7 linked regions of the Homo sapiens genome follow. The protein of the gene in region 6 purifies or fractionates together with the protein of the main gene of each other region. This does not show direct contact. Each region holds a gene or a part of one and is shown on either strand. Other genes may lie near its edges.

What was found.
Region 1: the proteins of VAPA (region 6) and WDR44 purify together in Homo sapiens (affinity purification with mass spectrometry; 4 studies listed by BioGRID and IntAct, with this or other methods). This does not show direct contact.
Region 2: the proteins of VAPA (region 6) and AKAP11 purify together in Homo sapiens (co-immunoprecipitation; 4 studies listed by BioGRID and IntAct, with this or other methods). This does not show direct contact.
Region 3: the proteins of VAPA (region 6) and RASSF1 purify together in Homo sapiens (co-immunoprecipitation; 4 studies listed by BioGRID and IntAct, with this or other methods). This does not show direct contact.
Region 4: the proteins of VAPA (region 6) and TTC1 purify together in Homo sapiens (affinity purification with mass spectrometry; 7 studies listed by BioGRID and IntAct, with this or other methods). This does not show direct contact.
Region 5: the proteins of VAPA (region 6) and PTPN12 purify together in Homo sapiens (affinity purification with mass spectrometry; 4 studies listed by BioGRID and IntAct, with this or other methods). This does not show direct contact.
Region 7: the proteins of VAPA (region 6) and FAM83G purify together in Homo sapiens (co-immunoprecipitation; 4 studies listed by BioGRID and IntAct, with this or other methods). This does not show direct contact.

Annotation. Positions count from the first base shown.
Region 1 is NC_000023.11:118,440,106-118,443,605, reverse strand, and holds part of WDR44 (WD repeat-containing protein 44), read right to left. Parts: intron 2,239-3,500; coding exon 2,047-2,238; intron 1,363-2,046; coding exon 1,261-1,362; intron 1,042-1,260; coding exon 926-1,041; intron 47-925; coding exon 1-46. UniProt on the Homo sapiens protein: Downstream effector for Rab11 which regulates Rab11 intracellular membrane trafficking functions such as endocytic recycling, intracellular ciliogenesis and protein export.
Region 2 is NC_000013.11:42,303,152-42,306,651, forward strand, and holds part of AKAP11 (A-kinase anchor protein 11), read left to right. Parts: coding exon 1-712; intron 713-3,500. UniProt on the Homo sapiens protein: Binds to type II regulatory subunits of protein kinase A and anchors/targets them.
Region 3 is NC_000003.12:50,330,837-50,334,336, forward strand, and holds part of RASSF1 (ras association domain-containing protein 1), read right to left. Parts: intron 1,319-3,500; coding exon 1,214-1,318; intron 1,021-1,213; coding exon 723-1,020; intron 614-722; coding exon 498-613; intron 1-497. UniProt on the Homo sapiens protein: Potential tumor suppressor. Required for death receptor-dependent apoptosis. Mediates activation of STK3/MST2 and STK4/MST1 during Fas-induced apoptosis by preventing their dephosphorylation.
Region 4 is NC_000005.10:160,047,139-160,050,638, forward strand, and holds part of TTC1 (tetratricopeptide repeat protein 1), read left to right. Parts: intron 1-2,375; coding exon 2,376-2,524; intron 2,525-3,500.
Region 5 is NC_000007.14:77,627,795-77,631,294, forward strand, and holds part of PTPN12 (tyrosine-protein phosphatase non-receptor type 12), read left to right. Parts: intron 1-3,500. UniProt on the Homo sapiens protein: Dephosphorylates a range of proteins, and thereby regulates cellular signaling cascades. Dephosphorylates cellular tyrosine kinases, such as ERBB2 and PTK2B/PYK2, and thereby regulates signaling via ERBB2 and PTK2B/PYK2.
Region 6 is NC_000018.10:9,934,516-9,938,015, forward strand, and holds part of VAPA (vesicle-associated membrane protein-associated protein A), read left to right. Parts: intron 1-1,594; coding exon 1,595-1,698; intron 1,699-2,470; coding exon 2,471-2,551; intron 2,552-3,500. UniProt on the Homo sapiens protein: Endoplasmic reticulum (ER)-anchored protein that mediates the formation of contact sites between the ER and endosomes via interaction with FFAT motif-containing proteins such as STARD3 or WDR44.
Region 7 is NC_000017.11:19,001,965-19,006,120, reverse strand, and holds the start of FAM83G (protein FAM83G), read left to right. Parts: upstream 1-1,356; 5' UTR 1,357-1,412; intron 1,413-1,951; 5' UTR 1,952-2,079; coding exon 2,080-2,601; intron 2,602-4,156. UniProt on the Homo sapiens protein: Substrate for type I BMP receptor kinase involved in regulation of some target genes of the BMP signaling pathway. Also regulates the expression of several non-BMP target genes, suggesting a role in other signaling pathways.

The sequences.
Region 1 (3,500 bases), on a different chromosome or scaffold from region 6:
AACATACTTATCTTCTGAACCACTAACGAGGTAAGTAAAATCATGGCTGAATTTTGGGGAGAAAGGAAAAGCAAATAAAATGTGTGTGTGTATATGTTTAAAGGTTTCCTTTATCAGTGCTTCCTACTTTGTGATACCTAAAATAACACTTGAAGGGTCTTGTTGAATATGTAGACCCATGGTCTCACTCTAGATGTTCTAAATGTGTACGTGTGATGTAGTGGCCTGGCACTTGTATTTGCATCAAAGCTCTAAGTAACTGTGATGTTAGTTAATCCACGTTGGGAGGAATGATGATTTAAGGTGTGAAAGACAGGAGCAGAATACTTTACCAATTGAATTAATTAATGTATAATTCAAGAAAAAAGAACTGGTAAGAAAACGGCAAAAGAAGAGGGCTAGAAAGAAGAAAAGGTAGCTAACCCTATTTCAGGAGAGTGTCCAGAACCCAAATTAGAAATTTAAATAATAATGATATGTAAAGTTTTGAATACAAGACCCTGTGCTGTGGGGTGTTAAAATGCTTTCTTAGAATCCTAAAAGGTTCCTTCCTTTCCTAAAAGGTTCAAGACAATGGGGCAGGGAGGGGAGTGGCGGGATGAGCCGTAAGCCCCCTCTTAAAAGCGTAAACAAAGGTACAAAAGCAAAAACTCTAGAGATGAGAGTCTTCATAATCTTGGCTCTACAACCATGACTTTAGGCCAATCACTTAATTTTCTGAGTCTTGGTTTCTTCATTTGCAGAACAGGGTCAATTCGAATTCTATATACTATATAGGTGGACAAGGTACGTATTGCATGATAATAAACTACTACTTGCAAAAGTGAAAAGAACCCCATTAAACATAAGGCATAGACCAATGGAAAAATGGAACTAGGGGAGAAATGTCCTGATCTCTTTTGGGAACATCTCATTGCCAATTTACCTGAAACTTGCTTTGATCTGGCTGCTGCTATTGACGTAACCCTTATACTTCATGGATAGTGACAAATCTCTCAAATCATATAGTCTGATTCTGGAGTCATTTGAGGTTACCAATATCTAAAAGTAGATCAAATGAAAAGTTAAAAATATCATCTTTTAGTACAAGCTAAGCTACAACCCAAAAAGGGTGTTACACACATACAAACTAATATACCTCAAAACTAGAAGAAAAGCGGTATTCCACAACAAAGAGAATACATTTTTTTGCCAAGATATTAAGAACTTTCAAGAATCTACATATAGTATGGAGAGAGATGGTTTTGAATACTGTAGTACCTTATTTTCTCCAGGTAAAGGCTCAATGCCAGTAATTTTTCTTCCAACCTTGTTGCGCCCTCTAGTAGATCGGACATGTATTTGTGTATGGTATTTCAAATGCTAAAAATAAACCATACATTTAACATATTAGAATTAGGAGCATGTGTGGTGGCTCGTATCTGTAACTCTAGCTACTCAGGAGGCTGAGGCAGGAGGACTGCTTGAGCCCAAGAGTTCGAGGCTGTAGTGAGCAACAATTGCACCACTACGCTCTAACTTGGGTGACAGAATGAGACTTTGTCTCTATAAAAAAATTCTTTTTGCTTGGGCGTGGTGGCTCACGCCTATAATCCCAGCACTTTGGTAGGCTGAGGCAGGTTAATCACTTGAAGTCAGGAGTTCGAGACCAGCCTGGCCAACACGTTGAAATCCCATCTCTACCAAAAAATACAAAAATTAGCTGAGTGTGGTGGCACGTGCCTATAGTCCCAGCTACTCAGGAGGCTGAGGCACAAGAATCACTTGAATCCAGGAGGTAGAGGTTGTAGTGAGCCGAGATCGCTCCACTGCACTCCATCCTGGGCAACAGAGTGAGACTCCATCTCAAAAAAAAATTTTTTTTAAATTAGAATTAGAAGACATCTCAAAAGTCATCTGTTCCAACTCTTAAGACAGACATGGTATTATTTGTCTCTATTTAGAGAAAATGCAGTTAAAGCCCAGAGGGGATAAGCAACTTGTCCAAAACCATGAAAGTGTTTACTAAGTATACAATTATATAATTTACAAAAAACAATCATTTACCTCTGTATCATAGAAAATACATCTGCCATCATATGTCCCAATCACTGCATATTTGCCATTCTGACAGAAATTTGCAGCTGTGATCAATTTTGTCTGACCATCTACTTCATTCCACAAAGCCACTTTTTTGTCAGGTATGTTCCAAAGGCGGAGCTTTCCATCCAAAGACCCACTTAGAAAATACCTGTCATCCTAAAGAGGTGGCAACAGAGAAAGTTTTCATTTTACCACATCAAGAAAAAACTCATTAGCAAATCAAATCAGTAAGTCTATTAGAATAGTTTAAAAATGTAGATTTCAGGGCCAGGTGCGGTGGCTCACGCCTATAATCCTAGCACTTTGGGGGAGGCCAAGGCAGTGGATCACAAGGTCAAGAGATCGACACTATCCTGGCCAATATGGTGAAACCTCGTCTCTAGTAAAAATATAAAAATTAGCTGGGCATGGTGGTGCGCGGCTGTAGTCCCAGCTACTCGGGAGGCTGAGGCAGGAGAATCGCTTGAACCCAGGAGGTGGAGGTTGCAGTGAGCCAAGATCGCACCACTGTACTCCAGCCTGGCAACAGAGTGAGACTCCGTCTCAAAAAAAAAAAAAAAAAAAAAAAAAAAAAGATTTCATTTAAAAATTTTTATTCTTTAAGCAAGCATTATTTTATGCACTGAAAGCAGTAACAACAATAAGAAACCTCACTATTCACTTTGGAGAAATAAAATTCTAATTATCATATCCTTAAACTGCTGTTTTGCAAGATATGGATGTCAATAGATAAAGTGTTTGAGTGTGTATTGCATGGAAGAAGGTTCTGTGATCAAATAAGTTTGAGAAATTCTGGGTTACAAAAAGTTAAACATGATTCTCAGTTAACCTGCATTTTGAATCTCCAAACAGGATAAAGTAGGTAGCACTTTTCAACATATTTAACCACAGACTTTTTTTGGGGGGGCGTGTTTACGGGAGGTGCTAGACCTTTCAGGAACATGCTATGGGAAACACTATCCTATATCATACCTTCCTCTGGGATACATGTAACACTTGGATAAAGAGTAACATCAGTTAGTGGCCCCCAAAACCAGTCATTTTTGGAACTCTAACACCATGTCAACAGAGAATTACTTCATCATTCAAATTCTGCTCTCAAATCAGCGGTTCTCAACCTGCGGCAATCTGACCTTGCAGGGGACATCTAGCATTATCTGGAGACATTTTGGTTGTCAAAACTGGTGGGAGGATCAGGATGCTACCAGTATTTAGTGTGTAGAGACCAGGGATGCTGCTAAATATCCTATAACGCACAGCCTACTCTCCCCCGTGTAACAAAGAATGTCAATAGTACTAGGATTGAGAAATCTCCTTTAAACTAAATCAGTCCTACCACTAAGCTTGTTTTGTTTTTGGCAACATAAGAATTTTTCTTTCTTTCTTTCTTTTTTTTTTTTTTTGGTGATGGGGTCTCA
Region 2 (3,500 bases), on a different chromosome or scaffold from region 6:
CTAAGGAAGAGTTGACAGCCTCTCTAGTTGGCCTACCAAAATCCTTAACAGATTCTTGCTTGTTTGAAAAATCTGGATATGAAGAAGATAATGAGTGTCACGTTACACCAGAATTGCCTAAGTCTCTTCAGCCTTCCTCACAAAATCACAGGTTTTACCACAGCACTGGCAGTTTAAATGGATATGGTTGTGGAGACAATGTTGTTCAAGCTGTAGAACAGTATGCCAAAAAAGTAGTGGATGACACTCTAGAGCTAACTCTAGGATCTACAGTGTTCCGAGTGTCTGAGACCACAAAATCAGCAGACAGGGTCACTTATGCAGAAAAGTTGTCACCTCTTACAGGTCAAGCTTGCAGATACTGTGACCTTAAAGAACTCCACAATTGCACTGGAAATTCATCTCAGCACTTTTTCAGACAGGGTTCTCTCGCCAGTAGTAAGCCAGCTTCTAATCCAAAATTTAGCAGCCGCTATCAGAAATCTAGGATTTTTCATCTCAGTGTCCCTCAGATTCATGTTAATCTTGATAAGAAGGCAGTGCTTGCTGAGAAGATAGTTGCTGAAGCCATTGAAAAAGCTGAGCGAGAGCTGAGCAGTACCAGCCTGGCAGCCGACAGTGGGATCGGACAGGAGGGTGCCAGCTTTGCTGAAAGCCTTGCCACAGAAACCATGACAGCAGCTGTCACAAATGTTGGGCATGCTGTTAGCAGGTAAGTTTCACGTTTCTTTTGGTTGTTAATGATAAATTAAAAAGATAAATGTGATCCTATATGTCTTAGGTCCTGTTCATAAAGGAATGATTATTTTTAACCCTACATAAACAAAAGTTTTCCCTGTTGCATTTATGTATTGTTTCATATCCTACACATGACTTTAATATATTTTGGTCTCCTGATCCCTTTTGAGGGAAGGTGTTATCCATTTACAGAGCTGGAAAATGAGGGTTGGAGAAAATAATCACCTTATCCAAGTTCATAGAGCTATGAAATAGGTAAAGTTGAATTAAATAAATAGCTAGAGAATTTTATATAGTAGTCCCCCCTTATTCTCAATTTTGCTTTCCTCAATCTGAAAATGTTAAATGGAAAATTCCAGAAATAAGCGATTCGTAAGTTTTAAGTTGCATGTTCTGAGTAGCATGATGAAGTCTCACACCATCTCACTCAGGATGTGAATTACCCCTTTATCCAGTTTATCCATACTACATGTGCTGTTCACCTGTTAGTCACTTAGAAGGTATCTCAGTTATCAGGTCCACAAACCTGGTATGTACAGGGCTTGATGCTATCTGCAGTTTCAGACATCCACTGGGTGTCTTAGATCATATCCCCCATGGATAAGGGGGGACTATTCTATAGTAAATGTAGAATATTACTATATTAATTTACTATTCTGAGATTAAATTTTTGTACACCTTTCTTCATTCACAAGGGTAAGTTTTCTTATAAAGACCATGGTTAAACTACTCTGAAGAAGAAAGTGAAAATTCTTTACATACTTACACCATTTCTCTTGATTGGTTCACAATCTAAGAGGACAGTTCTTTCTGGTAGTCCTACAGTGTCCTGTTTTTCAGTAGCTATCTCTTGTGCTCAGTGATTCTTTTTTTTTTTTTGAGATGGAGTCTCGCACTGTTGCCCAGGCTGGAGTGCAGTGGCACAATCTCAGCTCACTGCAACCTTTGCCTCCCGGGTTCAAGCGATTCCTGTGCCTCAGCCTCCCTAGTAGCTGGGATTACAGGCACCCACCACCACGCCCAGCTAATTTTTGTATTTTTAGTAGAGACAGGGTTTCACCAAGTTGGCCAGGCTGGTCTTGAACTCCTGACCTTAGGTGATCTGCCCACCTCAGCTTCCCAAAGTGCTGGGATCACAGGCGTGAGCCACCGCAACCAGCCATGCTCAGTGATTCTTTAATAACAACTTAGTTACAGTTTTTCAGTTTAAACCTTCTTTGTCCCTGAGAAGATATCAGGACCAACTTGTGTTATTAGTTGATAGGATGATATTTGTAAGTCCTGCTTGAAAGAGAAAATGCTTTAAGTTGAGGTGGAATTTAATTGAGTCACATGATATTCCAGATTTTTGAGTAGCTTCTGTTAAAGCCATGACATGGTCTGCCTCTTTTCTTATCCATCTTAAAATAGGGAGATATAGCTTGGCCAGGATTCTTGAATCCAATTGCTCCATAGCGTCTACTTGAGATGAGAGATGATGTAGGTTTCTGGTGAACTAGGAGAGGTCTCTATTTGCCCTAATCAGGCAGCCTTCTTTCTCCTAGACCAGGGGTTGGCAAACTACAGTCTGTGGGCCAATGTGGCCTACTGGTTGTTTTTGTATGGACTGCAAGCTAAGAACAGATTTCATGTTTTTTTTTAATGGTTGAAAAAAATCAAATGATATTTTGTGATGTGGAAATTATATGAAATTCAAATTTCAGTATTTATAAATAAAGTTTTATTGGGACACCACCATGCTCATTCAATTACACATTTCTGTGGCTGCCTTTGTGCTATAATGGCAGAGTTGAGTAGTTGGGACAGAGGCTGTATGACCAGCAGTGCCTATGTACTTCCTGTTTGGCCTGTATTAGTTCATTTTCACACTGCTATAAAGATACCACCTGAGACTGAGTAATTTATAAACAAAGGAGGTTTAATTGACTCACAGTTCTGCATGGCTGGGAAAGCCTCAGGAGACTTACAGTCATGGCACAAGGCAAAGGGGAAGCAAGTGTTTTCTTCACAAGGCAGCAGGAGAGAGAGAGAAGGGGGAGCTGCCAGACACTTTTAAAACCATCAGCTCTCATGAGAACTCCCTCACTGTCATGAGAACAGCATGGAGGAAGCCGCCCTCATGATCCAATCACCTCCCACCAGGTCCCTCCCTGGGGGTTACAATTTGAGATGAGATTTGGGTAGGGACATAGAGCCAAACCATATCATGGCCTCTTACAGAAAACAATTGCGAACCTCTGTCCTAGATCCACATTTTCGTTTTCACTACATACCAGTTCCTAGTATGATAATAAACATAATAAATTGTTAATAAATATTCTCATGAATAGGTAATAAATTAGGCCTTTTTACAATTGAAATAATTTTCCTCATACAGGTTGCTTCAGGCTATTTTACTTTTTACTCCTCCTCAGTTCAGTCCTGTCTGCCCTACGGACCCATCCATCCCCCTTTCCTCCCACCCTCATGGGAAGAAAAGAGACTGTCCTCTAAAGTTTTTAAGACATCACTCTCAGGGGCTAGCAAATGCCTTTGTTATTGATTTTCTCAGTAATTTCCACTTTTCCTTCTTAGAGTTGGGTGAGTAGATAGCCCCTAAAGTTCTTCCTGTAAGCCAGTGCTGTCCAATTTCAGCTTTTTATTAAGGCTGGAGTAATTATTTTCCTGCTTCTCTTCTTAATAATTGTGCTAGGGTTCTGTAAATACTGACTAAGGAAAGCTGACTCTAGTGTGTAGAGTTTACGTTTAACATTTTTTATTTC
Region 3 (3,500 bases), on a different chromosome or scaffold from region 6:
TTCTGATGTCAGGCTCTTGGCTGAATGATCTCTGGTAGGATCCCTGACAGCAGTTTGTATGGAAGATGGGCCCTACAAAACGGTCACCTTACTGAGACAACCAAGTCAGATGTTCCCCAATTACCTGTGGACAGGTCAGGCATATTCTGAGTCTAATTTCACTCCACAGGCCTAATACCTTGGAGCCAGAAAGCTTCCAGGTAAAAAGTCTGAAGGGGGCCTCCTCATGTCATTAGATGGACTCCTGCATCTCCAGAAGATTTTCCACACCAGGAAAGATCAAAGCACCAAGGCAATTCTTCCTGGCTTCTTGGGACAACCCTAGGCTTTGGCATGAGTGGTCTGGAAGCCTTTGCTTTAGTTACAATGCCTATACACTCCTGGAACTGTTTTGCAGGGCTTGTCTTCCAGCACAATTCCTCCTCCAAGCCTTACTGTAGCTACAGCCCATCAGTCCTGTCTAGTGACAACCAAGAAACTAAGAACTATGTACTCACGTTCACCTCCCCAGAGTCATTTTCCTTCAGGACAAAGCTCAGGGCCTTGTCACTGGGCCCTGCCAGGAGCCGCAGCCGCAGGGGCTGCTCATCATCCAACAGCTTCCGCAAGTACACTGTGAAGGGGAAGTAATGATCAGAGACAGGGCCAGCTGCTCAGCCCCTGCATGCTCAGGTGCATGCGTATATACCCTCACATAGGGCAGGGTGGGGTGGGAAGCCCACCTTGGCCGTGACGCTCAGCGCGCTCAAAGAGTGCAAACTTGCGGGGGTCATCCACCACCAAGAACTTTCGCAGCAGGGCCTCAATGACTTCACGTGCCCTTGTGCGTGACAGCACATGCAGGTGCTTGACAGCATCCTTGGGCAGGTAAAAGGAAGTGCGGCGCCTGACACTTGTGCCCCGTCCTGGGCCCCGCCGGGCATCCTGCAAGGAGGGTGGCTTCTTGCTGGAGGGCACAGAGACAGGGCGCACCAGCTTCAGCTGAACCTTGATGAAGCCTGTGTAAGAACCGTCCTTGTTCTAAAGAAATAGAGAAACCAAACCTTGATAATAGGTTCCAGGTGAGATGTCAGTCTACTTGGGGCTAGGCTGGGTATGCACAAATTACTGCTTGCGCCCACCCAAGATAACCTCAGTTGTGACCCTCTGAGTATCAGGCACATAGCTGGGTACCTGCTCCTCCCCACGCCCCCTTCCTGAGCAGTCAACTCACCAAGCTCATGAAGAGGTTGCTGTTGATCTGGGCATTGTACTCCTTGATCTTCTGCTCAATCTCAGCTTGAGAAAGGTCAGGTGTCTCCCACTCCACAGGCTCGTCCTGCAAGATGGGCCAGCATGGACACAGGGCCCTTGAGGAACCCAGGGCTTCTCTGAAAAATGGCCTCTGGGGCAGTCTTTGGAAACTGACTGCCTTTGGCCCCCTGTCCCTGATGTACATATACATAGCTGGTGCCCACCCTGAACCCACCACTGCTCCTGGTTTTGCATGCTCTGGGTGGATAAGGGAAAGACAGAATCATTTGGCTTCTCTCTGCTGCCTGCCTAGGGCCTCAGCACTGAATGTAGCCTTAAGGATACCACAGAAGCAGGGGCAACTGAAGGCACATGGCCAGGGGCCAGGAACAGCTGAGGGACTCTGAAGAGGGACTCTCATTTAAAGTAAAATCAGGCTGGGTGTGGTGGCTCACATCTGCAATCCCAGCATTTTGGGAGGCTAAGGTAGGAGGATCACTTGATCCTCAGGAGTTTGAGACCAGCTTGGGCAACATAGCAAGACCTCATCTCTACTAAAAAAAGAAAAAAAAAAATTAGCCAGGTGTGGTGGTGTGCCTGTAGTCCCAACTGTTCAGGAGGCTGAGGTGGGAGGATCGTTTGAGCCCGGGAGATTGCAGCTACAGTAAGCTATTATCGTGTCACTGCACTCCAGCCTGGGGAACTGAGTGAGACCCTGCTTCAAAACACAAAAAACAAAAACAGGCTGGGCACGTTGGCTCACGCCTGTAATTCTAGCACTTTGGGAGGCCGAGGCGGGTGGATCACCTGAGGTCAGGAGTTTGAGACCAGCCTGACCAACATGGAGAAACCCCGTCTCTACTAAAAATACAAAATTAGCCAGGCGTGGTGGCACATGCCTGTAATCCCAGCTACTTAGGAGGCTGAGGCAGGAGAATTGCTCAAACTCGGGAGGTGGAGGTTGCAGTGAACTGAGATCGTGCCATCGCACTCCAGCCTGGGCAACAAGAGCGAAACTCGGTCTCAAAAAAAAAAAAAATCAGTAAAATCACACCTCAATTGCACATTCTGATCACAGCACCCTAGTTGAGTTGGAGTGAGGGTTTGTCCTGGAGAAGGCAGCCCATTTTTCTCCTCTGCCCCGGCACGGGGCCATGACCCACTGCAGGGTGAGAGGAGTGGAGAGTGGTGCACATCAGTAGTCCAGCCACCAGTGGACAGAGTAGTACTTGGAGCCAGTTCTCCATGTCTCACACATAGTGAGAAAAATCACTGTGACATGATGTTTAACCTTGACCCAAGCTGCATAAAAGGCAGCTTTAGGCCAGGCTCCAATCTGCCAGAGGTACACAGGCAGCTTCCTGGTGGGTTTCTGCACCTGCCTGTGCTGTCTGGAGATTTGGCCCAAAGATTTTTTTTTTTTTTGAGACGAAGCCTCACTCTGTCGCCCAGGCTGTAGTGCAGTGGCTGGATCTTGGCTCACTGCAAGTTCTGCCTCCTGGGTTCAAGCGATTCTCCTGCCTCAGACTCCCGAGTAGCTGGGACTACAGGCGCGTGCCACAACAACACCCGGCTAATTTTTGTATTTTTAGTAGAGATGGGATTTCACCACATTGGCCAGGTTGGTCTTGAACTCCTGACCTCAAGTGATCCGCCTGCCTTCACCTCCCAAAGTGCTGGGATTACAGGCGTGAACCATCGTACCCGACCCAGAGATTTTTAACTCGACCACTCACTCCCCACCTCATCTAGGGACTGGATTCTTGCCGGAAGGGTGGAGTGTGGGACAGGGCAGCCAGGGCTCTGAACCGACTTTCTTCTCCCAGACTCCCTTGGCCCCACTGCATCAGCCTTACTTCCTGTTGACGTCAGATAGGCCCTAGTTAGAATGCGAGTGTCACAGACACAGCTAAGCTCAGCGCTGACCAATACTTTGTCCCAGAAGAATTCCCACAAGGTTTCCTGTAGAATGATCTTGTGCCTAGCCCAGGAGAGCCAGGGTTCTCCCTGACTCCGCCCTGGAGTCCCCTTAAGCACTTAAACCATCTGATGGGGACAAATGGAGAGGACAGATGAGGGAGCAGGGTGGAGCGTTTTAGCAGAATGCTCCTTACCCAGAACCCGCTGCTATTCTGCAGCCAGCAAGGATGTGGGGCTAAGAACTAAGGCCAGGGCCTTACAGGAAAAAGGTAAAGGGGGAGGGGTGGGAATTTAAGCTCATTTTCTTCCCCAAGTATCCAAAGGTCTCCTGGATGGAGAAGAGCACT
Region 4 (3,500 bases), on a different chromosome or scaffold from region 6:
GAGTTTCTGTCTTCAACTCTGACTTCTACCCTGTAGTCTAGTGTCCTGTATCCCACTGCAAAGTTCTTTCTTCTTGGATGTCTGGTAGGCACCTCAGATTTAACGTGCCCAGCCCCCACACACACACAAAACTTGCAGTTAGTTTTTTCCATTCTAATAAATGACATTACCATCTGTCCCCTTGCTTAAGTTAAACCTTTGGAGTCATCCCTGATTGTTCTTTCGTGTCACATGGCTAATTGATTAATTAGCAAGTTCCATGGGCTCAAATTTAAAGACATATTTAATGTAATCCGGCTGCTGTTTTCCATCTCTACTACTTCCAGCTTAGACCAAGCCAACATCTTCTCTCATCTGGACCACTGCATTAGCTTTCCAGCTGATCTCACAGCTTTCAGTCTTGCCCCACCCGCCAACACTACAGCCAAAGCAGTCCTTCAAAAATGTAAATCAGAGTATGTCTGAAGCTTGCTTGAAAACTTTCCAGTGGCTTCTCATCACACTGAGGAAAAAGTCCAAACTCCTTTCCCTGGCCAGGAAGGTCCTCCATGGCCCTACATTTCAGCCTCTGATCCCCAGCCTGATAACTCACATGCCAGAGTTATTCTTGTTGGTCCCTCTTCCTGGCACGCTCCTCCTTAGCCTTTCACATGGCTGGCCTCTCTCACATAGTCCCTCTTCATATTCTGAGACCACTTTCTGAAGTTACCTCATTTCTCGCTTCACTTGTATTTCCATGACCTTGTTTTATTTTTCATTATAGTACTATGGCTATTGAAATTATATACCTGTCTGTTCTTGCCTACTAGAATAGCATAAGGCTTCATGAGAACAAGGACTGTGTCTGTCTTGTTTCCCACTATAGCCCAGAGACATACTACATTGGACGTATATATTAAGTACTAAATAAATGTTCACAGAAAGCATGAATTTAAAAATTAAGGATAGATTATGAGAAAAGAAAAAAGTTCTAGAGCCAAGACATTGCTTTTTTTTTTTTTTTTTTTTTTTTTTTTTTTTTTTTGGGACAGAGTATTATCTCTCTGTTGCCCGGGCTGGAGTACAGTGATGCAATCGCCACTCACTGCACGCAACCTCCGCCTCCTGGGTTCAAGTGATTCTTATGCCTAAACCACCCAAATAGCTGGGATTATAGACCCACACTGCCACGCCCAGCTAATTTTTGTATTTTTAGTAGTGATGGGGTTTCGCCATGTTGGCTAGGCTGACGGTCTCAAAGTCCTGACCCCAATTGACCTGCCTGCCTCGGCCTCCCAAAGTGCTGGGATTATGGGCCTGAGCCACCACACCCGGCCAGCACTGCTTTCTAATAGAAAAAGAAACAACTTGGAAGAAATTAGAAGAAATGCAGTATGTTGAACCAAAACATAGCAAAGGATTATTAGAAGGGCAGCTGATGCTGGATAAAGGAAAAGATATTATGCATCAACCACCTCATAGTGCTGGAGCAGTAGTTTGAGGGTTGAAGGAACAGTGAGGATTTAACTAGAAATATAATCTTAGTACTCAAGACCTAGAAAAAAGAGAATGATAGTCTGCCACCAGATTGGTTTCCCTTAACTCTTTAATTTGTATCTTCAAATTCTCTCTCACCTAGCCTGGCCAACATAATGAAACCCCATCTCTACTAAAAATACAAAAATTAGCCGGGCATGGTGGCGCATGCCTGTAATCCCAGCTACGTGGGAGGCTGAGGTAGGAGAATCGCTTGAACCTGGGAGGAGGTGGTTGTAGTGAGCCAAGATCACACCACTGCACTCCAGCCTGGGTGACAGAGCGAGACTCCGTCTAAAAAAAAAAAATTCTCTCTCACTCTTTCACTGCGCACTTGAACTCTGTTCTGGCCTGTCCTGGACTGGGTAAATGACAAGTAGGCAAAAACCAGGACTTGGAGTATAGACCAGGATATGGCAAACTACAGCCACAAGCCAAATCCAGCCTGCCACCTGTTTTTGATAGCCTAAAAGCTAAGAATGGTTTTTACAGTTTTAAATCATTGGAAAGCAAAATATTTCATGATAATGTGAAAATTATGTGAACTTAAATTTTAGTGTCCATAAATAGTTTATTGGAACACACCTATCCTTTTTTGTTTACATATTATCTGTGCCTGCTCTCGTGCTACAATAGTATCATTGAGGAGCTGCGACACAGATGGTCTGTCTGACCCACAAAGCCTACAATCTTTACTATCTTGCTCTTTATAGAAAAAGTTTTCCAGCATCAGGTATACACTTGGCAAATGACTCTTCCTTTCGTATCCTTGGAGGATGATTGATGAAGGAATCTGATATAGCCAAAGATATGTAGGCCATTTTTCTTTGTGATAAAAATTATTTCTTCTCTTTTTACAGCAATTCAATTAAACCCCAGCTATATCAGGGCAATATTGAGGAGAGCAGAGTTGTATGAGAAGACGGACAAGCTAGATGAAGCCCTGGAAGACTATAAATCTATATTAGAAAAAGATCCATCAATACATCAAGCAAGAGAAGCTTGTATGGTAAAACCTAAAATTTTAAAAATATTTTTCCTTCTATTCTTTGTGTTGCTACCCAGTGAGTCCTAAATAATCCTTTCAGACACAATTAAATTCCATTTCTGTGCTTTTGAGGAGCTTATCAAGATATATGGGAGGCCAGGCGCAGTGGCTCTTGCCTGTAATCCCAGCACTTTAGGAGGCCAAGGAGGAGAGATCACTTGAGGCCAGGAGCTCGAGACCAGCCTGGCCAACACAACAAAACCCCATCTCTTCTAAAAATACAAAAAATTAGCCGGGTGTGGTCGTACACATCTGTAATCCTAGCTACTCGGGAGGCAGGAGAATTGCTTGAACCCAGAAGGCAGAGGTTGCAGTGAGCTGAGATCATGCCACTACACTGCAGCCTGGGCAACAGAGAGGATCATTGAGCCCAGGAGTTGGAGGCTGCAGTGAGCTGTGACTACATCACTGCATTCCATCATGGGCAACAGAGTAAGACTTTGTATCTTAAAAACAAACCAACAGGCTGGGTGCAGTGGCTCACGCCTGTACTCCCAGCACTTTGGGAGGCCGAGGAGGGCGGATCACCTGAGGTCGGGAGTTCGAGACCAGCCTGACCAACATGGAGAAACCCTGTCTCTACTAAAAATACAAAATTAGCTGGGTGTGGTGGCACATGCCTGTAATCCCAGCTACTCGAGAGGCTGAGGCAGGAGAATCGCTTGAACCCAGGAGGTGGAGGTTGCAGTGAGCTGAGATTGCGCCACTGCACTCCAGTCTGGGCGACAGTGTGAGACTCTGTCTTAAAAAAACAAAAAATACAAATGAATTTAAAAAAAAGTTAAAAATACAAATATAGCACTGTAAACATCTGATATGTATCCTTTCAAACTTTTTTCTGTATATATTTATTTGTTAAATTTGTATTGATGCCCTCCTTTAGTGTAGACTTTCTATTAAGAACTGGAAACAGAGCCAAACAAAACTTTTTTTTTTT
Region 5 (3,500 bases), on a different chromosome or scaffold from region 6:
AAATCTGTCTTAGATACTAATTTTTTAATATAAGCTTTTAATGTATTGTTAACAATTTGGTCACATTATATTACTGGGTTTTGTGTTTCTAAATTATTTTAGTAGTTATAACTGGATAACTTATTTTCTTTTTCTTCTGTATTATAGATCTTAGTGTTTTTGTATCGGTCAAAAATTTATCTGACTGAATAATTAGAAATAATTTAGGGAAGAATCACTTAAAATAACAGTGGCAAAAATACTGTAGAATGTCTTGATTGGCCATATAATGTTACTCGTTTTTCCTAAATGTTTAGTCATTTTTTACTGTTCCTTTAACTACAGATTACATTTTTTTGTTTGTTTGTTTTTACTGTCTTCACAAATGCTTCCAAATATGGCTGCTTCCAACCCTGAGTTTAACCCAGGAACAATACTGCAAACTGCTCAATTCAGTAGTGAGTGGGCTATATGCATACCTACTCATCAAAGCTATTATTTAAAGAATTATTATTTTTTTAGCACTCTTAGCATTTCAAGATAATGCATGCACTCAGTTCCCAAAGTGTATTATTGCTTCTTGAAACTCCTCTTTGATCTGCTGAAAGTAATGATGGCTACCATCTTAAACAGACCCTAAGGTTGAGAGTAAACATATAAATTTGAAAGCTGTTTATTGATATATTGATTATCAGTGGTCACTTACCTATCAGTGAACTTTGGTAGTGACACATACAGACTGGTATTTATAACGTGCAGGCAAAATAAGTACTGTGACCTTGAAAGATTTTTTTTTTTTTTTGAGACTTGCACTCAAAAGATTTTTTTTTTGAGTCTTGCACTGTCACCCAGGCTAGAGTGCAGTGGCAAGATCTCGGCTCAGCCTCCCAAGTAGCTGGGATTACAGGCACCCACTACCACACCCAGCTAATTTTTATGTTTTTAGTAGAGACAGGGTTTCGATATGTTTGCCAGGCTGGTCTCAAATTCCTGGCCTCAAGTGATCTGCCCACCTAGGCCTCCCAAAGTGCTGGGATTACAGACGTGAGCTACCACACCTGGCCTTGAAAGATTATTTTCTATTTCTGACCCATTATATACCACCCATACTGTAGTGCTTGTATTTTCTCTCACACATACTGTATTTTTTAACTTGAGAGAGTGTATTTGGTAGACTAGATGACAGTCTTTTTGAGACAGAGTTTTGCTCTTGTTGCCCAGGCTGAAGTGCAGTGGCGCAATCTTGGCTCACTGCAACCTCCGCCTCCTGGGTTCAAGGAATTCTCCTGCCTCATCCTCCCTAGTAGTTGGGAATACAGGCATGCGCCACCATGCCTGGCTAATTTTTTGTATTTTTAGTAGAGACAGGGTTTCACTGTGTTAGCCAGGATGGTCTGGATCTCCTGACCTCGTGATCCGCCCACCTCGGCCTCCCAAAGGGCTGGGATTACAGGCGTGAGCCACCACGCCCAGCCAGGTGACAGTCTTAAACTATTTGCTTAAATTACAGAATTATCTTTTCTTGATTTATCTTTGTTTTATTTGAAGGATCTTTAGAAGATAATGAATAGTATAATATTACTTTACCAGTTTACCATAATTTTAAATTGCTAATGTCTTTTGTTCCTCAGCTTCAGAATTTGAAATATAACTGCCCAGCTGTAACTATATAAGAAAATATGTAGATAAGAAATTTTCATTTTGAGTTTTTAGTATATCAAGCATGTGGTATTGTACCTAGGAAGTTTTATTGTTTTTTTGTTGTTGTTTTGTTCTTTTGCTTTTTTTTTTAAAAAAAACCAAAAAACCATTACTGGAAATAGGATTTGGTGAGGGCCAGAAAGATGTATGATGTGATATGCTTATTAAAAGTTACTACTACATGACGAGTCTGTTGGTGGCTCATGCCTGTAATCCCAGCATTTTGGGAGGCTGAGGCAGGAAGTTCACTTGAGCCCAGGAGTTCATAACCAGTCTGGGTGACATAGTGACACCCAATCTCTACAAAAGATAAAAAACTAGCCGGGCATGGTGGTGCACACTTGTGGTCCCAGCTACTCTGGAGGCTGAGGTAGGAAGATCACTTGAGCCTAGGAGCTCAAGGCTGCAGTGAGCCATAATTGCGTCCCGGCACTCTGCCTGGGCAACAGAGGGAGACCCTGTCTCAAAAAAAAAAAAAAAAAAAGAGTAAGATATAGCTAAAAGCACCCTACTATGTGCCAGCTCATTTCTGTTTGTTTGGTTTTGTATTTCAAAGCAAAAATCACTATACATGTGATTTCTGGTTTCTTTTTACTCAACCTTAACTATGTTATTGGTTTGATTTTAACCGAAGATTTTCCTGTGTGTAAATGTTCTTTGTTGCAGCATAACTACAAGTAGTCTCATTTTTAATGTGTTGCCAAATATTTACCATATGGATTATTTACTTTATAGATTGTTTATTTACCTTATAGATTATTATTTCCTTTGTAGATCATTATCTTATAGAGCCATTGGCACCAGAATTAGAGTTTTGGGGGGTTTTTTGGTCCTAGAACTTGTTAGTGAATTACAGTCACACATTTCTTAATGGCAGGGATATGTTCTAAGAAAAATATGTCATTAGGCAGTTTTGCCATTGTGTGAATGTCATAGAATGTATTTACACAAACCTAGATGGTATAGTATATACTACACATCTGGGCCATACAATGTAACCTCTTGCTCCTAGGCTACAAACTTGTATAGCATATTACCATACTCAACAATTGTAACACAATGGTAAGTATTTGTGTATCTAAACATAGAAAAGGTACAGTAAAAATATGGTATCATAATCTTACAGGACCGCTGTTGTTTATGCGGTCTTGTTGATGAAAACATCATTATGTAGTGCATGACTATAATGGAATACTTTTGTATTGATACCTAAAAAAAACTTTTGCATAAGTTACTGCCTGACAAAAATTCTTAGCTATCAATTCTAATTTCAGTCTTGACTTAGGCCTCCTGAAAGATTTCTCAGATTCAACTACAGAAGGCCCCATACAGTGTATGATTTGCAAAAGCCTATATAAAATACGCAATATCTGGTTGGATAACCTCTAAAACAAAAGTTTTTAACAGGAAAGGCAGCCCAAAGTTCCAGGGAGAAACATGCATTTGCAAAGCAAGGGCCACGCTTAGAAAATAAAAGTTTTTAAGGGTGAGAACTGCCATGAGAGAAAAAGCACAGAGTTTCTGGAAGATAACTGATAGAAAAAGGGCTGAACTGCCCTTTTTGTTTTGTTCATTTAATTTAAGAAATGGTACCAGAATGCCAAGATTATGTGTCCCTTCCTTCCAACAGCCATCTCTTCACTGTGCGCTGTTAGTAGCAAGAGGGCAAGGAGACATATGGTGATGACTCAGACTACCACTACTGGATAAGGTAGATAGTTCTTTAGTGGCAAGAGAGAGTTCTGGTACTCTTGGTAGATGTATCAAGTATTGGACTGGAACTCCTCTTTCAGGAGGACCCAGAAGCTGTATTTTCTTGC
Region 6 (3,500 bases):
GTTGTCTTAACCTTGATAGCAGTTAATGGACTTCTCAGACACACCTTATGAATAAGACTTTATTACATAATTATTTCTTACATTTATTTACCCGTGTTTATCTTTTTGAAAGTGTAGAGATATATCTTAGAAATAATCTAAAGTTAGGGAAATAATTTCTATAATGCCATGTACATATTTTGTGTAACTGTTGATTGATTCTTTGTATAGTCTGTTATATTGGACTCATGTTACATAAATTTAGCATGACTTACAACCACATGGAACCTTAGAAAACTTAAAAGACGAGAAATTATAAATGCTTAAAAATTGCTCACGCCTGTAATCCCAGCACTTTGGGAGGCTGAGACGGGCGGATCTTGAGGTCAGGAGATCGAGACCATCCTGGATAACACGGTGAAACCCCGTCTCTACTAAAAATACAAAAAAATTAGCCGGGCATGGTGGCAGGCGCCTGTAGTCCCAGCTACTCGGGAGGCTGAGGCAGGAGAATGGCGTGAACCTGGGAGGCAGAGCTTGCAGTGAGCCGAGATTGTACCGCTGCACTCCAGCCTGGGCGACAGAGCAAGACTCCGTCTCAAAAAAAAAAAAAAAAAAACTTAAAAATTTTGAATGTTATTGAGACTGTAGAATAAATTTTAGAACTCAAGAGGCTATATGGTTTCCTTGTGTACTTTTGTTTTCTTAGAAGATTTAAATAAATTCATAAACTCTGAAATAGATGTTTATTTAAAATACAATTTTGAAAAATTAATTATATTAAAACAATATATGGGCTGGGTGCTGTGGCTTACGCCTGTAATCCTAGCACTTCGGGAGGCTGAGGAGGGCGGATCTCTTGAGCCCAGGAATTCTATACCAGCCTGGGCAAAATGACGAAAACCCTTTCTCTACAAAAAAATACAAAAATTAGCTGGGCATGGTGGCATGTGGCTATAGTCTTAGCTATTTAGGAGCCTGAAGTGGGAGGATTGCCTGAGCCTAGGGAGGTTGAGGCTACAGTGAGCTGAGATTGCGCCACTGCACTGCAGCGCAGCCTCAGCCACAGAGTGAGACCCTGTTTTAAAAAACAAAAAACAGATGGTAGTGAGGTTTTAAGTTACTGAGTATTTCTCCTTTAAATATCTCAGTTGTATAATTTTAAATCAGAAAACACTAAAATGAAGCCTAAATTCATAGTTTTAATAACTTATATTTAATCTGAGCTTATAGGCATTATAGTTAACGTTGGCAAAGTTTTGAAAATTTTCACAAGCTGAGTTTAGAAAGGGCAAAATCATAGATTCATATTTAATTTTTAATTGTAATTGTTTATTTTGTTGGTTGTGCAAAACTTAGTAAATTAGAAAGACAGACAATTTAAAAATACTTGGGATCCATTAAGTTGATTCTTAAACATTCCAGTGTTTGGTTTCTTGAACCCTTCTTGGTTTTTTTTAAATTTGCATATTTGTGAAGTAGTAGGAATGATACTATTGCCAGATACGGTTTAAGGCAAATCCCAGACTTAGTATAATTTAATCTGTAACTGTTTCAATGTATGTCTTTCAGACATGCAGGAGACAATATAATATATCCTTTTTTTCTTATTTAGTAATGCTACAGCCCTTTGACTATGATCCGAATGAAAAGAGTAAACACAAGTTTATGGTACAGACAATTTTTGCTCCACCAAACACTTCAGATATGGAAGCTGTGGTAAGTATAGAAGAAGAATTTGTTTTGGGAAGTGGAGTTTAAACTGTGGGTGTTGTTTAGCAGTCAGTAGAAAAACTTAATTTCTAAAAACTAAAAGTTAAATTTAGGTTTTTAAAAAACTGCCAATTTCTTCATTATAGATAATCCTAACTTAAAGAATGAAAGAATTTTTAAATAGTATTTTTTTTTAGAAACAATTTAGAAATGCTGCTACTGGCCTGGTGCAGTGGCTCACACCTGTAATCCCAGCCCTTTGGGAGGCCAAGATGGGAGTATCTCAAGCCCAGGAGTTCGAGACCAGCTCAGGCGACATGACAAGACCCTGTCTCTACAAAAACAAACAAACAAACAAACAAAAAACAAAAAAAACCACCACAACAAAAATGAGCTGGGTATAGTGTTGGACGCCTGTAGTCCCAGCTACCCAGGAGGCATGGGAGGATTGATTGCTTGAGCCCAGGAGGGGCGACTGCACTCCAGCCTGGGAAACAGAATGAGACCAACTGGAAAAAAAGAAAGAAATGCTAAGAAGAAAGTCCTATGGTTGCTAGTAATATCATCGTGATTTTAATGGATGGTGATAGTAACTAGGATTATATAAAGGTTCTGTGACATTAGCCGATAACAATGGCAGGGTGATCAATAAAGAGTGCACCAGTGTGTTTCAGCCAAGCCAGGCAGCTTCACTCATCTTTTAGCTGTCCCGTGAGGTGAAACTTACTTACCATGATCATACCTCCTATGTCTCATGTTTGGTTTTGTTTATTTTTAGTGGAAAGAGGCAAAACCTGATGAATTAATGGATTCCAAATTGAGATGCGTATTTGAAATGCCCAATGAAAATGATAAATTGGTAAGTAGGAGAATGTAAAAAAAATTGGGAGCTGTTGAGCTCTCAGTTCCTTTGATTAATTTTGCTTTTATTTTTGACCTTTGAGGTATGTGTGATATGGCTATTACACTTCATAAGACTCAGTGGTTAAGTTTTAAAAAACTTGGTATGCCTTTTTTTTTTTTTTTTTTAAAGTAACATTTTGTTTATCCAAGAAGAAAGAAAGACTCACTTTTAGGTCAAGACTGCATCCTGGAGAAGAATCATTTAAGTCTACCAGATTTTTTGTGACGTAAACCACTGCAGGTTCTTTTTTAGAATGAGATGTGTATACATAATTTAAAAATACATATAAATTGCTTTTTGGCCACTATGTACCGGCAGTTTGGGGATAAATTCACTTACATGGACAGTTTATTCCAGGTTTAGTTATTCCTAGGTATTTTGCTCACTTTTGTTTTTAGTCAAATCCATCTGATTGTATTCTTTAGTAAATAATTATTATGTTGCTTACTCATTAGTGTAAGTCTAATACAATTTGGGGGACTGAGGGATGTATTTGTTTATTCAAAAACAAACAAAAAATAGTCTGTGAATGTACCGAGTGGGTTGTAGTCACTTACCTTGTCCATTTCCCTGTCTGGATTGCAAATTTGAATCTTTTCCTATGGTGAGAGAGACTTGAAAGATAAATTTTTCTGTGTGTGTATGTGACTTAATACATACAATAATATGGATAAATAGAATGGTGTGGCACAATTTGGTTACAATCTGACATGACTACTGCCTTAATCTAGTGGCCATTTGCTCTATTGAAAAGTAAACATGCAGATTAAATATGTGGGCTCAGTTATTGTGTTCCTCTTTCAGGATAAGCAGAAATGAAAAGGTCTCTGGTAATTAGGTGTTGACCAAATTATATTTTGAATTTTTAAAATGCCTCTTTTAAGTGATTTTTGAGGTATTTGCC
Region 7 (4,156 bases), on a different chromosome or scaffold from region 6:
TACAACCTTCCTGCTCATCAACTGCAGAAGTGTTGGGGTGGTGGAGGTGGGAGTGAGGCCTTGGACTCCCTTCCTGAACTCTCCAGCCTCTGTGCATTGGTAAGAACACAGGGAGAAGCTGAGGCGGCTCAGAGAAGGTCTTACAGGGGATCCACAGTAGCAGAGGGGCTATAAATGGGTCTTCAGGACCCTCAAGGCAGGGCTCCCCCGCTGGGATCACCTCCCCTCTCTGGCCCTGGGGCAGGAGGAGGATGCAAATATGTGTGCCTGTTCCCCAGGGGCCACTATGTTCAGTAGCATAAAGCCCTTGGGGGGCTATATGGCAGAGTGTAGGACTTCATGCTTGAGGGGTCAGTGATGGGGACCACAAGGATGCTGGGCCTAGGAGGCTAGTCATTGCCCAGGGCAGTGGACTCAGAGGCAAGGAGTCCTGATGGGCCATGAATGGTGGAGAAGGCCTTGGAGGGGGGGGGTTTGAGGGCACAAGGCCTAGAGATGTCACCAGCCTACGGAAGCAGCATCCTTACGGGACCCAAACCAGCCCCATCCAGATCCAGAGCAAGTATGGGGGATGGGAGGAAGGGCTGGGCCTGGTGCCGGGCAGACTGGCTGCGGCACGCGATGGGGTGGGGGCTGTTTGTTGGGCCAGATTTAATGGGCTTTGCTGTCCCACCCTCAAAGCCTGCCTTCAGATGTGGTCTCCACGCTCCCCATAACCAGGGTCCCAACCCCAGGGGACGCTCAGCAGAGAGCTGGGCCTGACCCCAGCCCACAGCGGCCCTCTTGGCCCCTCCCTGCCCTAGGGTTCAGGTCGGGTGCTGCCCGCCACGCAGAAGCAGTCCGGGGACCCCTCCCAGAGGGGATCAGGGCTTAGGACTGAGAACTGGGTATCTGCTCAGGAAAGCCCTGAGTTTGGGTCAGTCAGTGCCCTATCCCTGCCTGGGGGCTCCCAGCCCAGTACCCTAGACCTGTTTCCACAACTGGACAGCTGGGTATCTATACAGCCGCACGGACTTCCCGCCACGCCGGCGAAACTGGGCACAGCCAGGGTTGATCCAGGATCACCAACAGACCCTGGGGGCACAGGGGGGTGCCAAGGCTGTTGACCCGCTGTGTGACCTCAGGGAGAACACTGTCCCTCTCTGGGATGGGTGTTCCAGGAGCTCTTGGGCTTAGGCCTCTGATATTTTCGGAATTCGGGCACCAGGGGACCGTGGGCAGTGCGTCCGCCCCAGGTCTGTCTGTCTGTCGAGGGGTGAATCAGCTTCCGGCCCCGCCCCGGGCGGCACGTGACCGCAGGTGGCGGCGGCGGGGTAAGCGGGGCGGCCCTGAGTCACCGGCGCGCCCCCGCCCAGCCTCGCGCCGCCGCCGCAGCCGCCGCGTGTGCGCCCCGCTCCGCCAGCGCCCGCTCGGTAAGCAAGTCCCGGCCGCGCCCCCCGGATCCCGGGTCTCGCGGGGCGTCGCCGCCCCGCAACCGCGTTTCTGGGTCTCCTGGACCCCTCCCAGAGCCCCAGCCTCCTCCGGGCAGGCCTCCTGGGTTGCCGGCACCCGGAAATTTTAAGACCCCTCCCTTACCCGGAAGCCCTCGGTTTGCGGGGCGCCTCTGTGCCGGGGCCGCCTCCCACTCTAAGAAGCTACTGGGAAGTTCCCCGGCTGCCCTAGTTTCCCTCAGAAGTTGCGAGGACTTCAGGCAGCTCCGGAAATCTGGGATATGGGTTCCCTGCACGTAGAGGCACGCTGAGCCCTGGGACGTGGCCCACCGCTCCCTCACCGCTGTTCCGATCCCTTACTTTCTTCCCATCCCAGTCCAGTGCCCCCACCTCATCTTCCCAGCCCCAGCCCCAGCCCCGTCCTTCCCACGCCCACCTGAGTTCCCGGCCCCGCCCCCGCCGCCCCTCCCCGCGCGGCCCGCCCTCCCCGCCGAGCCGGGCTCATCAGGTCTTTCCCGCAGATTGCTCATGGGCAGAGAAGCAGAGGCCGCGGAGAGGCCCCCGAGCGCGCGGTGCCCCAGCTGGGCCGGAGCTAGGAGCTGGACCTTGCCCACCCACCCCCGGCAGCAGTGCCCGGGCAGGCGGCGCCATGGCCTTCTCTCAGGTGCAGTGTCTGGACGACAACCATGTGAACTGGCGCTCCAGCGAGTCCAAGCCTGAGTTCTTCTACAGCGAGGAGCAGCGGCTGGCGCTGGAGGCCCTGGTGGCCCGCGGCCGGGACGCCTTCTACGAGGTGCTCAAGCGGGAGAACATCCGAGACTTCCTCTCGGAGCTGGAGCTCAAGCGCATCCTGGAGACCATCGAGGTGTACGACCCGGGCTCTGAGGACCCTCGGGGCACGGGCCCCTCTCAGGGGCCCGAGGACAATGGGGTCGGCGACGGCGAGGAAGCCAGCGGGGCGGATGGGGTCCCCATCGAGGCCGAGCCGCTGCCCTCCCTGGAGTACTGGCCCCAGAAGTCGGACCGCTCCATCCCGCAGCTGGACCTGGGCTGGCCCGACACCATCGCCTACCGCGGCGTGACCCGGGCTAGCGTCTACATGCAGCCCCCCATAGACGGGCAGGCCCACATCAAAGAGGTGGTGCGGAAGATGATCAGCCAGGCACAGAAGGTGAGGCAGCGCGGGGACTCCTGGAGCCATGGCCCAACCAGCCACCGGACCCCTCTCAATACAGGCTCACTCAGAGCCCAAAACGGGAGCCCAACATGGGCTTCTAGGGATCTCTGCTGTTTTCCCTGGCTGCCTCTTGGGTGGAGGTTTCCTCCCCACCTTCGTGGGGATCCGCAGTTTCTTTGCAGGGTAGGGTTCCCAGGTCCTAGCAGGTGACAGTGGGCTGCCCCGTCTCAAAGGGCCTCTTTATTGTTGGAGGGTGTTTCTGGTTCCCCAGAAGAAGGCACCGAGATAGGGTGGAGTGGGGAGGGGAGGAACCCCAGGGCTTCCTCTCACTCTCCCTTAGAGTGGCTCTGATTCACTGTAAAGGCGCGCACACACCATGAGCTCTCTGGTGGGGAGAGCTTTTGTTGTGGGGTGAGGGAATAGGCATGGTCCAAGTCCATCTGAGACTGGCCTGGAGGTCCTTGTTCAACACTGCCTGTTTCCTAGCTGTGCTGAGCAACTGGGAGCAGATTGCACACCCTCTCTGAGCCTCTTTGTGAGCTTTGCAATGGTGGAAACTTTCCAGGCCAGGATGCTTGGGTGAGGGAGGTGTGGTCCTCATCTGTGGAAGTGGAGTGAGTCCACCTGAGCATTGTCCACCTGAATTTTGCCACCGGAAGGGACCTCAAGCCTTCTCTGGCCCTCCCCTTCTCCACCCCTGTTGGGCTATGCAGTGCCCTAGCTGTGGGGGGCCATTCTTGGCTGACACACCGTCACACATTCTGAGAAGGGGTGCTTGCCATTTGCAGAGACAGCTAGGCCACTGCTGGACAGTTGTGACCATGAGCAGGTGCTAATGCCTGCTGCACGTAAGTACCTTCTCATCGTTTCCAAGCACATCTTAATTTGATAGATAAAGCTTACCTAGTGAGCTGTGTTGAGAAGGATTCTGAAGCCAGGTCTGGGCCTCAGGTTGTGGGATGAGGTGTTCCTAGCTGGGTCTAATCCCTTTATACTTCCAGTCCCAGAGCAGGGCAGCCAATTGCAGAAGACCAGAATGCTGGCTTCGGGGACCATCCTGGCTAACTGACAGGGCCTTGGGGAAGTTCGTGGGCAGAGAAACCAGACGTGGGTCAAGAACTGGTGAGGTGGCCCCTGGCCCTGGCCCCAGTTTCCAGGAAGGTGGAGTCCCTGCCCAACAAGGGGACCAGTTGGGTCAGCTAGCTGGGTGGGGGCGCCTGGCCCCTGGCCTGGCTGCTCTCAATTCACTGACTGACCCTGGGCAGCTTTGAGGCTTCGGGTTTCTGATCTATAAGATGGAGGTGGTGTGGATAAAAGCTGCATCTTTGGCTATTGTGAAGATGGAATATCGGGTGACAAAAGTAAGGAAGGAGTTAGAGGAAGAGGAGGAGGAGGGGGAGGAGGAAGGGACCTTCATAGTTTGCAGACTGAGAGACCCGCCCCACACCTGCTGTGGTGTGGAGGAAGTGCTGCTGATGTCTGTGCCTGATGGGGATGACTGGCTGGAGGCTAGAGAACCCAGTCCCCACAGAGAGCCTGCTGGGATCCC